Linked DNA regions of Homo sapiens. The protein of the gene in region 1 interacts with the protein of each later gene in a pairwise test. Each region holds a gene or a part of one and is shown on either strand. Other genes may lie near its edges.

What was found.
Region 2: the proteins of SPSB1 (region 1) and ADPRH interact in binary tests that used the Homo sapiens proteins (3 or more experiments, as listed by UniProt).

What each region holds. Positions count from the first base shown.
Region 1 is NC_000001.11:9,351,872-9,358,896, reverse strand, and holds part of SPSB1 (SPRY domain-containing SOCS box protein 1), read right to left. Parts: intron 3,155-7,025; 5' UTR 3,006-3,154; coding exon 2,312-3,005; intron 1-2,311. UniProt on the Homo sapiens protein: Substrate recognition component of a SCF-like ECS (Elongin BC-CUL2/5-SOCS-box protein) E3 ubiquitin-protein ligase complex which mediates the ubiquitination and subsequent proteasomal degradation of target proteins.
Region 2 is NC_000003.12:119,575,415-119,582,504, reverse strand, and holds the start of ADPRH (ADP-ribosylarginine hydrolase), read right to left. Parts: upstream 3,014-7,090; 5' UTR 2,654-3,013; exon of another isoform or gene 1,955-2,653; 5' UTR 1,869-1,954; intron 372-1,868; 5' UTR 336-371; coding exon 38-335; intron 1-37.

The sequences.
Region 1 (7,025 bases):
GGGTGGGCGGAACCCTCTGTTCAAATAGGCTCCAGTCCCCTCCCAGCCACTCCAGGGGTCTGTGTACTGTACTGGAGCTATGATACATAACCGTGAAGCTGTGCAAACCCAGAGCTCATGACAGCATCAGGGGGCATGTTCCTGGAGGGCACAGGGCTGGAAATCTTCATGGGGCCCCACAGTCTCAGTGGGCAGGCAACAAGAGCAGGTCTGGCAGTCCCCTCATCTGTCTGTCTGCAAAGAATGGACATTAACCTCCCTGGCTCCGTGACCACCCCATGGCTGGGAGGAGGGAGGCAGGGCTGAGGGTCAGGGCTCCTCAAGATTCTAGGTCCTAGGCAGGATATGCCCAGGGCTCCCAATCTGCAGCCATCCCAGTTTGAGGCAAATTTGGCTGTGGACGTGGTGCCACTCATTTCTGACACCTAGGGAGACAGACACAGAACTCACTCTGCTGGTTCCATTTCCGAGGTGACTTCCCCGGGGAGGCTACCTGCTGGCTGCAGGCCTGGTCACCCACCTCTTCCAGGAGTCCCATGACCTGGGGGCGCCAGGCTGCACAGACGAGGACCAAGCAGCCCTGGGAGCCTGTACCACAGACATCGTGTGTGGCTGTCAACTCACTGCCATCACAGTCAAAGTCACAGCAGAGGACCAAGAGAAAGAGGGGCGGGGAGGCTTCCAAAGAGAAATGTGTAAGCGTTTGCGCATGCCTAACCACCCCGACACTTTCCCCAGTATCTTTCAAAGGCTGACGTGGGGGAGGAGGAGCAGGAGGAGGACCTCCTTCTCCAGGAGGAGAAGCTGCAGGCTTGGAGACTTCAAGACAGAGTCAGCATCTGTATTCCTGACCTCTGGTGGGGGGCCTCACCCCCCTCTGCCTCTTGCCTGGCCTGCAGGGTGGGGTTAGAGCTCAGGGTGCTGAGCTGAACCTGCCCTTTAAGGACAGTCAACCCATGGGTGGATGGAGCTTTCCAGCCCACTTGCTTCCCAACGTGGGACTTGCAGGCGGTAGAAGGGACTCATGCAGGCAAGGAACTCTGAGAGAGGGCCGTACACGGGGTGAGCCGTTCTGCAACGCCAGGCCCTCCTGCTACCACGGACTCCCAGCTGGGCAGCCATGGAGCCTTCACCTCCCACACCAGCACGGTGCCCCTACACATGGGCTGCATTCACAGTCTGAGAAAGGCCACTCCCCTTCCCAAAGGGACAGGTGGAGTTCGCTGTTGACTCAGTCTGTTTCTGATCTGCATGCTCCTCCCCAACTTCATGACTGAAGAAGTCCCTCAGGACTGTATCTCAGAGCCCACTCAGAAGCCTCTGGCAGAAGAGAAAGACTCTAAGCCTGTCTAATGAGTGAGAGAGGTCACTAGCATTCATTTACCGGAGAGGCCCTAGTATCCCCAAGGTTACAAACCCCAGCTCGATGATATGCTGGCAACTGGGCTAGAATTTGGTCAACTGAGGATCAAACCTGGAGGCAGGTCACCCAGAGAAACAAAGACCACCTACTTATTAATTCATCCATCTATCCATTTATCCATCAATTCATTAGTCTATCTGCTTATCCATCCACTCATCCATCCATTCACTGATCCATCCACCCACTCATCCATCCATCCATCCATCTACCCACTCATCCACCTGTTCATTTATCCATCCATCCATCCATCCATTCATTCACTGATCCATCCACCCATCCATCCATCCACTCATCCATCCACCCATCCATCCACCCATCCATCCACCCATCCATCCATCCACTCATCCATCCATCCATCCACTCATCCATCCATCCATCCATCCACCCACCCATCCATCCGTTCATTTATCCATCCACTCATTCATCCATCCACTTGTTCATCCACTCATCCATCCATCAATCTAAACACTCATCCACCCCCTACCCACCCATCCACCCACATCCATCCATCTGTTTGTTCAACCACTTATCTATCAATCCAAACATTCATCCATCAATTCATTATACACGCATCCATCCATTATTCACTCATCTATCCATCTATTCATCATCCATCCATCCAACCAATCATTCATCCATCTATTCATTCATCATCCATCATCCATCCATCTGTCCATTCATTCATGAGGCACCGTTAGGTAATCTAGCTGACTCTGGGTAGAATTCCTCACTTAACCCGATGCAAAAGTTGCCTCTGAGGGTCTGAATACACTGGAATATCGTCTTCAAAACACTCTAGTTCCAATGAATCAACTTTTGGCCTGAGCCCAGCCAGGACCATGGGGACTGAGGGAGGGCATTGCCTCTGACAGCAGAGGAGACACTTACGATCGAGTCCGTTCAAGTAGCGCATTCGGATCTCACAGTGGCCCCAGACGGCACTCACTACAGGATACAGTTTTTTGCCCTTGAGTCCCCGAAAAGCCACTCCCATGTACTGTCCATCCACAATGAAGCTCAGAGTCCCGTCGTCCATGTCCAGGGCTACCAGGAAGGAGTCAGGGACAATGAATGTCTCATCTGGTTCCAGAAAGGCTGGGTATGTTTTGCTTGGCTGGTTCTTGCCATCGTGGTAGAGCCGGTTGCGCCCCAAGTCCCAGCCCCAGGACTCGTGGTTATTCCCCACGAGGGTTGTGTACCCGACAGAGTGCAGGGGGGCGTCTGCCGTCGCCACCCCCACCACGGCGTGTGTGCCCCGCTGTCTCATGGCCCACGTGATCTGCCACACGTGCAGCCCACGGGTATACCCGACTTTGCCCCTGATAGCGTCCGTGCTCTGGGCCACCGGATGCCGGTGAAAGATGAGCTTGTCGTCCTCCTTCACAAAGACATTGAGCGATCGGTCGTTGTTGTTCCATGAATGCAGCAGCTGGACATCATAGGACACAGGGGGCATGTCCAGTAGCAGATCCAGCCGGGTGGGCTTGCAGTAATCCAGACCCTGGAGCTCCTGCTTCAGGGGCCTGTACGTGGGGTCCCTCATGTCCACAGTCTTGATCCCTCCAGTGACCTTCTGACCCATGTTCGCCCCTGGCTTCACCTTCTTACCGACTCCCAAGGCAAACTCATCAATCTCGTGGTCTCGTCTCCAGTATTCTGATCGGGGCCAGACAGAATTCCTAATGAGGGCTGCCAGGAGACCTCTGCAAGCTGCGCAGTGTTCAGTATTGCCTAATGGACGGAAAGACAAACAACCGGTGAGCAGGACTGTGGGATGAAGGGGAAAGTTAACCCGGAGGGCAAGGCGACCACATCAGCATGTCCCAGCAGCCTGCACCTGGGCTCTGTCATGCCTGACACGGGCAGGCTGGAGCCTTGGCGCAGAATGAAATCCCCCGTTCCCTGGCTAGCTGTCACAAAGGAAAGGGTCTGTCTGTCCACGCGGCCGACTGTGTGGAGAGGTGGGCTTGGGGGATGGGCATCACCCTCATCTGTGTTGGGTACAGACACATGGCTGATGCCCACCAAATACCTCATCAGGGTTCCACAGGGCGGAAGGCCATGGTGCCACAGAACCAGGACTCAGCCATGACAGTGGGCATTTGCTTGGTCAAAACAGAGGGAGGTGCATGGCCCTTGCCTTGCGGTTCAGAGGGGAAGTGGAGCCCCAGGTAGCAGCAGAGGCTGCTGAGGATGCCAATCCCAGCTCCTCCTCCCTGTCTCTGGCACAGCTACCTCCAGCAGACGCACCACCAATTCACTGCAGAAAAGGGCCTTCTGGTGCAGCTGGACAGCTCAACTCAGGGGTCTGTGTGCGCTTGGCACGAAAGGCACCAGGAGCCTCCTCCGCCAGCTACATTCTTCTCAAGGGAAGGCCTCGATTCAGACAGCAAGGGGGGCTCATCCCCCGACCCCCGGGATTTCTTAGATGACCAACCACCTTTTTCCTGCCCACACCCTTCAACTAGAAGCCAGGGTTTCGCCCTCTGGGTCTCAACAGCACATCTGGGGAGGAAAGTCCGATGCTAGGATGCCTCGTTCCCTCTCTGGCCTCACCATCCCCTGGGTCCTTCAGGAGGGAGAACAGGGACTCTGGGTTGGGGGAGAGATCTCACTGCATCATCTACCCGATCCCTCTCCACTGGTAGCCCAGGAAGAATTCTTTTTTTTTTTGAGACGCAGTCTTGCTCTGTCGCCCAGGCTGGAGTGCAGTGGCGTGATCTCGGCTCACTGCAACCTCCACCTCCTGGGTTCAGGTGATTCTCCTGCCTCAGCTACGATTACAGGCACCCACCACCATGCCTGGCTAATTTTTGTATTTTTAGTAGAGACGGGGTTTCACCATGTTGGCCAGGCTGGTCTTGAACTCCTGACCTCAGGTGATCCACCCGGCTTGGCCTCCCAAAGTGCTGGCCAGGAAGAGTTCTATTCAAGGAGAAGGATAAGGCAGCAGAAGATTTGAGCCTCGTTCAAGAGAGAAGTTTCTTTCTGCCATCAAGAACCTCCTTGGCCTCTGGAAGGGACCAGAGAGGCCAAGGAGGGCAGCCTGGTTTGGGGTCAGGCTCCTAGGATCAACTAGGCCAGGGGCAAGGCAGGCTCCCGTTGAAGAAATGGAACTAAAGGAGCCTGTGGGGGCGCCTGGGCGGGAGGCTGTTGGAGCCTTGGCTGCCGGGAGAGAGTCACGCTGGGTCGCTTGTTACTAGGGTGCCCGAGTAAAGGAGACAAAGAGAACCCAAAGGAACCCGGGGTAGGGGAGGCTGCAGGCTCCCAGACACACGGAAATCCAGGGACCTCAGAGGGCTGGCCTCCCCCTTCAGTATGGGGCCAGCCAGGGCCAGGCTCTGCAGTGGGGCTGGCCTAGAGCTCCCTCTCAGCTGGGAAGAGGCCCCACGAGACCCTGTTCCCGGGGCGGCCAGGTCTCCAGGAAGTTTGGTCCTGGCAGAACCTTCCCATGCGGGAACACTTGGTGCCCCGACCCCCTTATCTCAGGGGCCAGGTCATGCTTCTCGCCCTCCCCTTTCTGATGTGAGACACAGGGTTCCTTTTTTTTTTTTTGAGATGGAGTTTTGCTCTTGTTGCCCAGGCTGGAGTGCAATGGCGCTATCTCGTCTCACTGCAACCTCCGCTTCCTGGGTTCAAGCGATTCTCCTGCCTATGCCTCTCAAGTAGCTGGGATTACAGGCGCCCACCACCACGCCCAGCTAATTTTTTCTATTTAGTAGAGGCCGGGTTTCACCATGTTGTCCAGGCTGGTCTCGAACTCCTGACCTCAGGTGATTCACCCACCTCGGCCTGCCAAGTGCTGGGATTACAGGTGGGAACCACTGCGCCCAGCCATAGACAGAGGGTTCTGATCTCAGGGGCACGGTCATCTCTTCAGAGCAGGGCAGGACTCCTTGTGTCCAGTGTCTGCAAAGCCATTACAGAGCTGAGGTGTCCCCTCTGCAGCCTAGAGGGCCGCCCTGGTTCCAGAGAGTTCTGTGAATACTGTGACCTCACATCCATGATCTCCCAGGAAAATCCCATTTTCAAGCTTTTAGTTCCATCTCCTCTCCTGGGAGCCACTGAAACCTCTAGGACTCCCTCCATGGCGCTGCAGAGGGACACCCTGTGGCTTTGGGGCCTGCGCCTCAAGCTGCGGGAGGGAAGGGGGAGAGAGCTGGGTCTGGTGTGGTGCGGGTGTGGCCTTCCCTGAATTCCCCTCTTCCCCAACCTCCACTGGAGCATTTTCTGAGCTGTAGGAAGGCTGGGAGGGCCGAGGCGGCTCTCGAGGGGCCGGGCGGGCTGAGGCGGCTCTCGAGGTCAGAGCTGCATGGAGCGGGGGTGCAGAGTACCACCCTCCCATCTGTCTGGACACCCCCTCCAGCTTGGTGCCCAGGAACCTCTCCATATTCTCAATTTTGCAGGGTCCTGTGGGCACAGAGGTCAGCTCCCTGGGAGGACGGGGCAGGAATTACTTTCTAAGAGAGTTAGTTCATGTCACGCTTCCTGCAGCGTAGCCCCTCCACAGCCCCCCTGCCGCTCAACTGTGGCAGCAGGGAGGACCTTTCTCCCGGGATCTCGTCTGTCATGGAAGATTCACCCTCTCTCCACGTGTGGGAGCAGGTGGGAAGAGTGAGGAGGAGGCTGGGGGAGGGAGGGGAGGGTGGGAGAGACAGGTGGCGGGGAGAGGTCCTCTAGCAGGTAATTGAAAATGCCAGGAGGGACCATAACAGGGAGGTTGAGGGGGGAAGAGGCGAGGAGAGTAACACCTCAGAGGGTTGCTCTGAAAGGGTGAAGTGGGGTGAGACAGGGAGGGACGGGGAAGGAGGGGGAGGCAGAGGAGGGAGGAGGAGGGAGCTCTCAGGCTAATAAACCCAGAACTGAACACACAGAACGCCTGTCTCAGCGAGACCGGAGATCAGCTTTTTCTGAAATGGGCGCGATAGTAAATGCCTGGCTTTGAGGGCCAGACAGTCTCTGCTGTTGTCGCACAAAAGCAGCCACAGACGGGACATAAATAAACGCGCGTGGCTGAGTTCCAGAAAACTTTATTTATAAGGACAGGCTGGCCTGGGGTCCGCCAGCCAGAGCTTAGACAGGGCCCTGCATCGTCTCCACTTAAGACACAGCCTTGTGGGGCTGTAGCAGGCATTATCCGGATGGTGGGGAGCGGGGGATCCCCAGAGGCTGGGCCAGCCCCGTCCCAGAAAGAGCCACCAGAAAGGACGGCTTCACCTTGACGTGGGACATCCACTGTCTGTCTGTCCAGGTCGGCTCCACAACCTCTCCTAGTTCTGAGATGCCAGCACCTCAGGTGGCCTAGCAAGTCCTTAACACCAATGCTGGGCTGAGCTCCCTAAACCTAACCTGAACCACAACCCCTCCACCTCCACCCACCTTCCCTCCACCCCCTCACCCCAGCCCAGGCCTTGGACCACATGGCTGTGAGGGATGGGAGTCTGTGGGAGGGAGGGCCTGGGAGGAGGGAGGCTGGGGAAAGAGGGTGGGGCGTTTTCCCCGGGCAGGGCAGGCAGGTAAAGGGGCCTGCAGCACTGTGGGGTGATTCCTTCACAAGGGCACCCCAGGGCCTAGCCAGGGAATGTGGCCCACACACCCGGCC
Region 2 (7,090 bases), on another chromosome or scaffold:
CTTTGCCCTCCTTGCACCTCCCACCGGCTGTGCTCACCTGGTGCCCGCCCATCCATGTCTTCCATGCAGTCTTGGTAATGCTTAGCAAGGAGGTAATACAGTTGAGTCAACTTAGGGGCTTTCCCAGCTTCCACAAGAGCTTCTGCTGTGGCCAAGTGCATCACTGTGTCGTCACTAACTCTCCACCTTCCCACGTCTAGGGCATCCAAGCCGCCCAGCTGGGCCAACTGCCGGTGTATCTTCTCCCCATCCTGGAGGAACTCCCACTTCCCATTGTAGTACCCCAGGGCATCTCCAGCTGCACTCAGCACCATAGCAGCCACATACTTCTCCATCAGTCCCTCACAATTGCTGGGCTCTGGAGAGGGTGTCTTTGTGGGGAAATTAAGACAAAGGAAATAGGATGAGGAGCAAGAAGAATCAGAAAAAACAACGACTCTAGCTATGTTTTATTGAGCACTCACTACTTGCAGACATTGTATCAGTGGCATCTCATGTAATCCTCATCACTGCTCTATGAGGAATATAAAGCCCATTTTATGTATGAACAAATGGAGGACCATGGAGATAATGCAGTTTGAGAAATGTTCAGTGACTTGTCTCAGGTCACAGAGCCAATAAGTGGCAGGGCTGGGATCCCAACATAGGTCCATCTGACTCCAAAGTCTATCATCATAACTACAACTGTATCTCTTGCCTCTTGGTGAGTAGTAAGCCCACTAAATTCTGCAAGTCAAACCCAGCTCATCATTTGCTCTTCTTAGCTGGGATTTGGCCTTAGAAGTGCAAGGCTTTACACTTCCTATTAGTGTCACAATGTGTAGTTCACAAAGCACCTGCACATTCATTGTCTCACTAATAGGGAGGGATTACAGTATGCATTTCACAGATAAGAAAATGAAGGCTCAGATAAGCTAAATTCACAAAACAAGAGGAGTGGAAGTACTGGAACCCAAATCTGATTCCAGCCAAGCCAGGATGCTTGGTATCACACCACTCAGCCTCAGTCCAGATCTTCTTACCTTGGGCAACCTCTTGGTGCCTCAGCCTCCACATTTATAAAATGGCACTGATTTTAAAAAGTAACAACCTCCTGGATTTGTTGTTAGGAATAAATAAATTAAATTTCATAAAGTTGGCTGGACGCGGTGGCTCACGCCTGTAATCTCAGCACTTTGGGAGGCCGAGGTGGGTGGCTCATCTGAGGTCAGGAGATCGAGACCAGCCTGGCCAACAGGGTGAAACCCCATCTCTACTAAAAATACAAAAATTAGCCGGGTATGGTGGTGCATGCCTGTAGTCCCAGCTACTCAGGAGGCTGAGGCAGGAGAATCGCTTGAACCCAGGAGGCAGAGGTTGCAGTGAGCCGAGATTGTGCCACTGCACTCCAGCCTGGGCGACAGACCAAGACTCTGTCTCAAAAAAAAAAAAAAAAAAAAAGTTCTTAGAGTGCTTGGCACATAGTAAGCTTGATTTTTGACATATTTGTATTATTCATATACAACCAGGGAAAATGGGTGTTCTGTTTTAGAACTAGAACATTTTCTCCCCACAACCTTTCCTTCGACAGTAATGTTTAAATATTGTTTCTCTTAGAAATGATCAGCTTCTAGAGAATTCGAATCTCTATTAATAATATACCCACCATGAATGAAATCCCTGGTAAAGCGCTGGCTTCCCTGTTGGTGCATTTCCTAAGAACCCCCCTCTTTCAGCCAATTCCTCAGGGTTCCCTTCTCCCTGTGGCTTTCAGGTCAAAGCCCTCCATCCCATCCAGGCCAATACTTTTATAAGGGTCTGGCAGACTAGCTCATTCTCCCCTCAGGTGAAACTTTTCCCTCCCCTCCACTTATCTAAACCCTATTTACCCAAGGTCTAGTTCAAGTCAGGAGGCTTCCAGAAGTGCTTCTGCAGCTGCACTGCTGTTGGCCATGGAATGCAGGCTGGAGAGCCCCTGGAGAAGGAGTAAACGACGAAGATGGATGCGTTCCACTACCCAGTTACTGGTAATGCTGAGTTTCTGAGCTCACAAAGGATATTTGTAAATGTTATTTACATAGTTTATTATTTACAGTGAAGCCTAGGCACTGAGATTCTGGGCTACTAGACCTGACAGACACCCGGGACAGCGGTTTGCCCATCTGTAAACTGGAGGGGGAAGTGGGGAGGTATAGGCTCTCGGAAGTTCCGTCCTGCGCTGCGATTTTCAGACACTAGGCCAAGACACTCTGCTTCTTGGCCTCGGAGGACTAACTTTAACCCCCCATACCCTCCCTCTCAATGTCCTCATTGTCCTTTCCGTAATTCCTTCTGGCTCCACCCTAATGTGTGCTTCTGTGAATTGCAAGCTGGGATGGGGGAAGAAGACCGGCATCTTTTTTCGGTTGTAAATTCCCTTTAACGTTCGCTTTCAGAACGCTGTAATTACTTAACTCCTCTGAACTTTCACGGGTCACATTCTCGTACCCGAACTATACATTCAGAACTAAGATCTGATCAGCTGCTTCCGGGCCATGCCCGGCTTTGGAAAGAAACGGGGCGGTTGACACGCTCCCACGATTTGCAAGACTGGGAATCCTCATGGTCGGCCACACTCGGAGAGCGCCAGGGGCGGGGGAGGGGAGCGCGGGGCCGAGGGCCGGGATCGCGATACCTGCTGTAGCCTGGACTGGAACGCGCGAGCGACGGGCGTGGCGCGGGCTCCCGGGGCCGGGGAAGAGGCCTTGGCTGCTGCGGGTGGACGAGGGCGCGGGTTGGGGCGGAGCCGGGTCACCGGGTTCCGGGACTGTCCCCAGATAAGCAGGGTGGCGGCGAGGGCCCCCGCACCTGCGCTTGGCCGCGCTGAGTGAGCTAATCTTGGAGCCTCCAAGGCGGCTTCCTGGCACCGCCGCGCCCTTCTGCACCCAAGCGAGAGTGGACGGGACCTCCGTCGCCCGCCCCAAATGCTCTGAAGAGCCCGGAGCCTGGTGCCCGGAATGTGGCGGCACCGGAAAGCCGGCTCTCGCCTGGCTGTGGTCAGTGACTCCCGTGTGGCCCCGGCTGACGCCTTCGCCCGTGCTCACGTCCGACTTTGTAGGACTGTAGTGGACCGGGTGTGCCCAGATGCTTGAAGAGCGTACTGAGTGTGCCGCCCTTGCCAGGGTTCTGGGCCCTCACGCATAAAGTGGGATAATAATATCTGCCTCTTAGAATGGTTGTTAAGGATTCAGTTAGTTAATTTTAACTAGTCATTTATTTGGCAGCAGCGTAGAATTCTTGTATCCTGATCGTAAATAAAAGCAAAGAAAAACGAAGAGTATTTTTGTCTAAATACATTAATCATGTCACTTTTAAAGCAAATCAGAATCACCATATGCAAATATTCTATATATTTCTCCAAAGTTTTAAATTTGCTATGCCTATTTTCTTGCTGTAATGACTAGCCTTGGTCTGAGAGCTTTTTAAAAAATTGATATATAATTTATATATAATGAAATGTCCTTACACCATAATCGAGATATGAAATATTTCCATCACTTTAAAACATTCTCTTGTGGCCTTCCCAGTGAATAACCATCTCCATCTCCAACTCTAGCCTAAGTGACTTTTGAGTGTTTACAAAAATCAAGTTCACCAATAAGGGAGGCAGAGATCACCTCCAACCCCCTACACCCTCTAGCTCTTAGTGAGCTAATCAGCTGCATCTAGAAGCCAAATTGACACTAGGCAGATTAACAAGAGAAAAGTATACAAATTTTATTAATTTTACATGTACATGGGGATGTTAAGAGACTGAATCCTGAAGAAAGTGTCCAAAGCAAGATGCTTTTATACTTTTTAGAAAAAGAGTGATAAATTTAAGAAGAAGTGACAGGACAAAGAAAATCCGGCTAGGGTGGTAAAAAATTTCTAGGGGAGCCCCTAGGAGATATATGGGGGGTGGGGTGTAAAACAGGTGGAAGATAATGGTTACTTTGCAAGAATGTTTACTCCAGTCCAAATGCCACCTCCAGTTCCAAATCTCTGGTGATGAGAGCTATTTTCTCGCTCTGGCGTGGAGAACATACCTCTCCTAGAGGAATCTTTATTGCTGGCTGCATGCAGGAAGAGACAGCTCAGCTCCTGTCAGGGAACCAGGCTCATTTGTCTTTCACACAGTATGCCAATCACTGAGGCGCACAAGTTTTGCAGTAGAGAAAGGGTGTATTCACAAGGCAGCCAAGACAGGAGACTGGAGAACAGGCCTCAAATGTGCCTTTCCAAAGATGGAATTTTAGGAGTGCTTATGGGATAGGGGAGGAAGGTGGTCCAAGGTTCAGAGAAAGATGAGGTAAGGAAAAGTGAGGCAATCGGTAATCTGAGCAAGCATAGTCAATCTTCATGGCTGTTCATAGAACACATGTTCACAAAATCGTGACGTTAGCATGATCTGAGAGTGGAGTTTTGGGCCTTCTGATGTCAAAAGGTCACCCATTGGACACTCACGCAGGCCAAGATGAAGGGCTGGTGGCTTGAACTGGACAAGAACTGACTCTAAGTTCCTGAAAAATAACTTAAGCAATATTTTCCATGGTGTCCTATCAGAGAAGTTATCTATAAGGAGGCAAGTGGAATTTAGTTATGTATCGTCTAGCTACATGACTTTTAGCTATGCAGGTTTTAAAATCGACTAGAAGCAAGTGACCAAAAGCAAGCAAGGCAAATTAAGTGTCAGGCCTAATCAGGTCAGCCCTCAGTTTTACCCTTTCTGAAACTATAATTTCTCTAATGTTTTCAACTCAAAGTAATCAATATATTATATGGCATATTTGGGGATGGCACATCCTTCATTCTTTCAACTGTCAAAGATTTTCAGCCTCTGAGGATGCAGTCAAAGCAAGTTCTGTAGTAAGAGACATTTTGAATAATAAGCATCCCGATAAAACTCAACACAGTTTCAGCTTAAGATGTCTGCTGAGGATATTGTTCATATTATGTAGTGATCTTTCTGTGAGAATCCATGGGAAAGGGTGATTTTTTGTTTTCGTTTTTGACTTAAATGTAAAGAATAACTGGGGCTGGGCACAGTGGTTCATACCTGTAATCCCAGTACTTTGGGAGGCCAAGGGGGACAGATTGCTTGAGACCAGGAGTTCGAGACCAGCCTGGGCAACATGGTGAAACCTGTTCTCTACAAAAAATACAAAAATTATCCAGGCATGCGCCTGTGGTCTGAGCTACTCAGGAGGCTGAGGTGGGAGGACTGCTTGAGCCCAGGAAGCAGAGGTTGCAGTGAGCTGAGATTGTGCCACTGCACTCCAGCCTGGACGACAGAGCAAGACCCTGTCTCAAAACACAAACAAACAAACAAAAACAAACAGAAAAACTGGGGTTGTTAGCAATTAGTTTGCTTTGAACTTTATGGTGCCTATGAACTTTGTGACCATTAGCATAGACTCCCGACACATCCACGCTATCTGGTTTCAAACCCTTGTAACAACACTTGGGGGCCAGGCACGGTGGCTCACGCCTGTAATCCCAGCACTTTGGGAGGCCAAGGCAGGTGGATCATGAGGTCAGGAGTTCGAGACCAGCCTGACCAACATGGTGAAACCCTGTCTCTACTAAAAATAAAAAATTAGCCGGGCATGGTGGTGGGTGCCTGTAATCCCAGCTACTCGGGAGGCCAAGGCAGGAGAATTGCTTGAACCCAGGAGGCGGAGGTTGCAGTGAGCTGAGATCGTGCCACTGCACTCCAACCTGGGCGACAGAGTGAGACTCCATCTCAAAACAAAACAAACAAACAAAAAACACTAGCTTGAGTAAGTGATTTTAGACAAGTCACTTCATCTTGCTAAGCTTCACTTTCTGTTATTAAGTAGGAAAAATAATAGTACATATTTCATAAAGTTGGTTTGAAGATTGCATGAAATAATTAATTGAAAAATTTTAGCACAGTGCTTATCAATGTAGTAGTCATGCAAGAAAAAATTACTACCAGGTCAGATATCTCTCTGTATTCCCAGTTCTCATCTCCATCACACACATGAGCCATTCTACCTTCTTTTCACATTAGTTAACACCTACTGACATCCTTTCTCTTCTGTCAAAATTAGAAAATGTTTTTGGGCATCAAGGACATTGTCCTATAAACCAAAAGGATAATTTATCAGTTAGCATGTTTCCAGCTCCAAATAACGGCAAATAACCATCACTCTTCCCCACCCCCAAAACACCACATACTCACTGGGCTTAAATAATAATGGCACTTATTATCTTATGTAACAAAATGTCTAAAGGTAAGAAGTCCCAGGGTTAATTTAGCAACTGTATACTATCATCAAAGAAAGACCCTGTTCTTCTTATCTTTCTGACCTACTATCTTCAGTTATTTTTATCCCCAGACTGACGTTTTTAATTGGCACAAGATCATATTTTCCCCATTTTAATTTATTTTATCAAATGTATATAGAGGTCTTATCCTTCGGTTTGTTTTTGTTTAAACCATTTTGCTATTTTGTGTCTGCTAGCGAGCCCAAGAGGCGTTGCCTATTAACCATTTACTGTTAATTTCTTCGAAAATTTTTGTTTAGCTCTGATTATTTAACTAGGCAGTCAAGATAATGTGTATGCATAATAACACATTGCAGTTACAGTTATAGACAGTGTCCAGTGGAAAAAGAGAGTGTTTCTTCTTTCAAGATGAAGAAACTATTCTCAAAGATCCTCCAGAAGTCTAAACCAATTCCTGGCAGGCAGGCTGGATTATGATGTTTCCCTTAGATCAAGGATAGACACATCTTCCCTGAGAGGTAGAGGTAGGTTCTTTTACAAAAATCAGGGTTTGTTTGCAAAGGAAACAGTGAATGTTGTTCTGCCAAGAAGAACAAATAGTTACTTGGCATCTTACTAGGTGCTAGGCATTAGTATAGGTCCTGGAAAGACAAATATATTGCATAGTTGGTTCCTTGCTCTTAGTTTTATTGAGGAAGACACATCATAGGCATCTTCATTACTCACCAATACAGAATCAATTGCTATGCTGAGGCTGTTGCTGAGAAATAAACTTGTAGCCCTCGGACCTGATCTTAAGATATTTCAGACACTTCATCTATAAGGTCGGAACAATGAC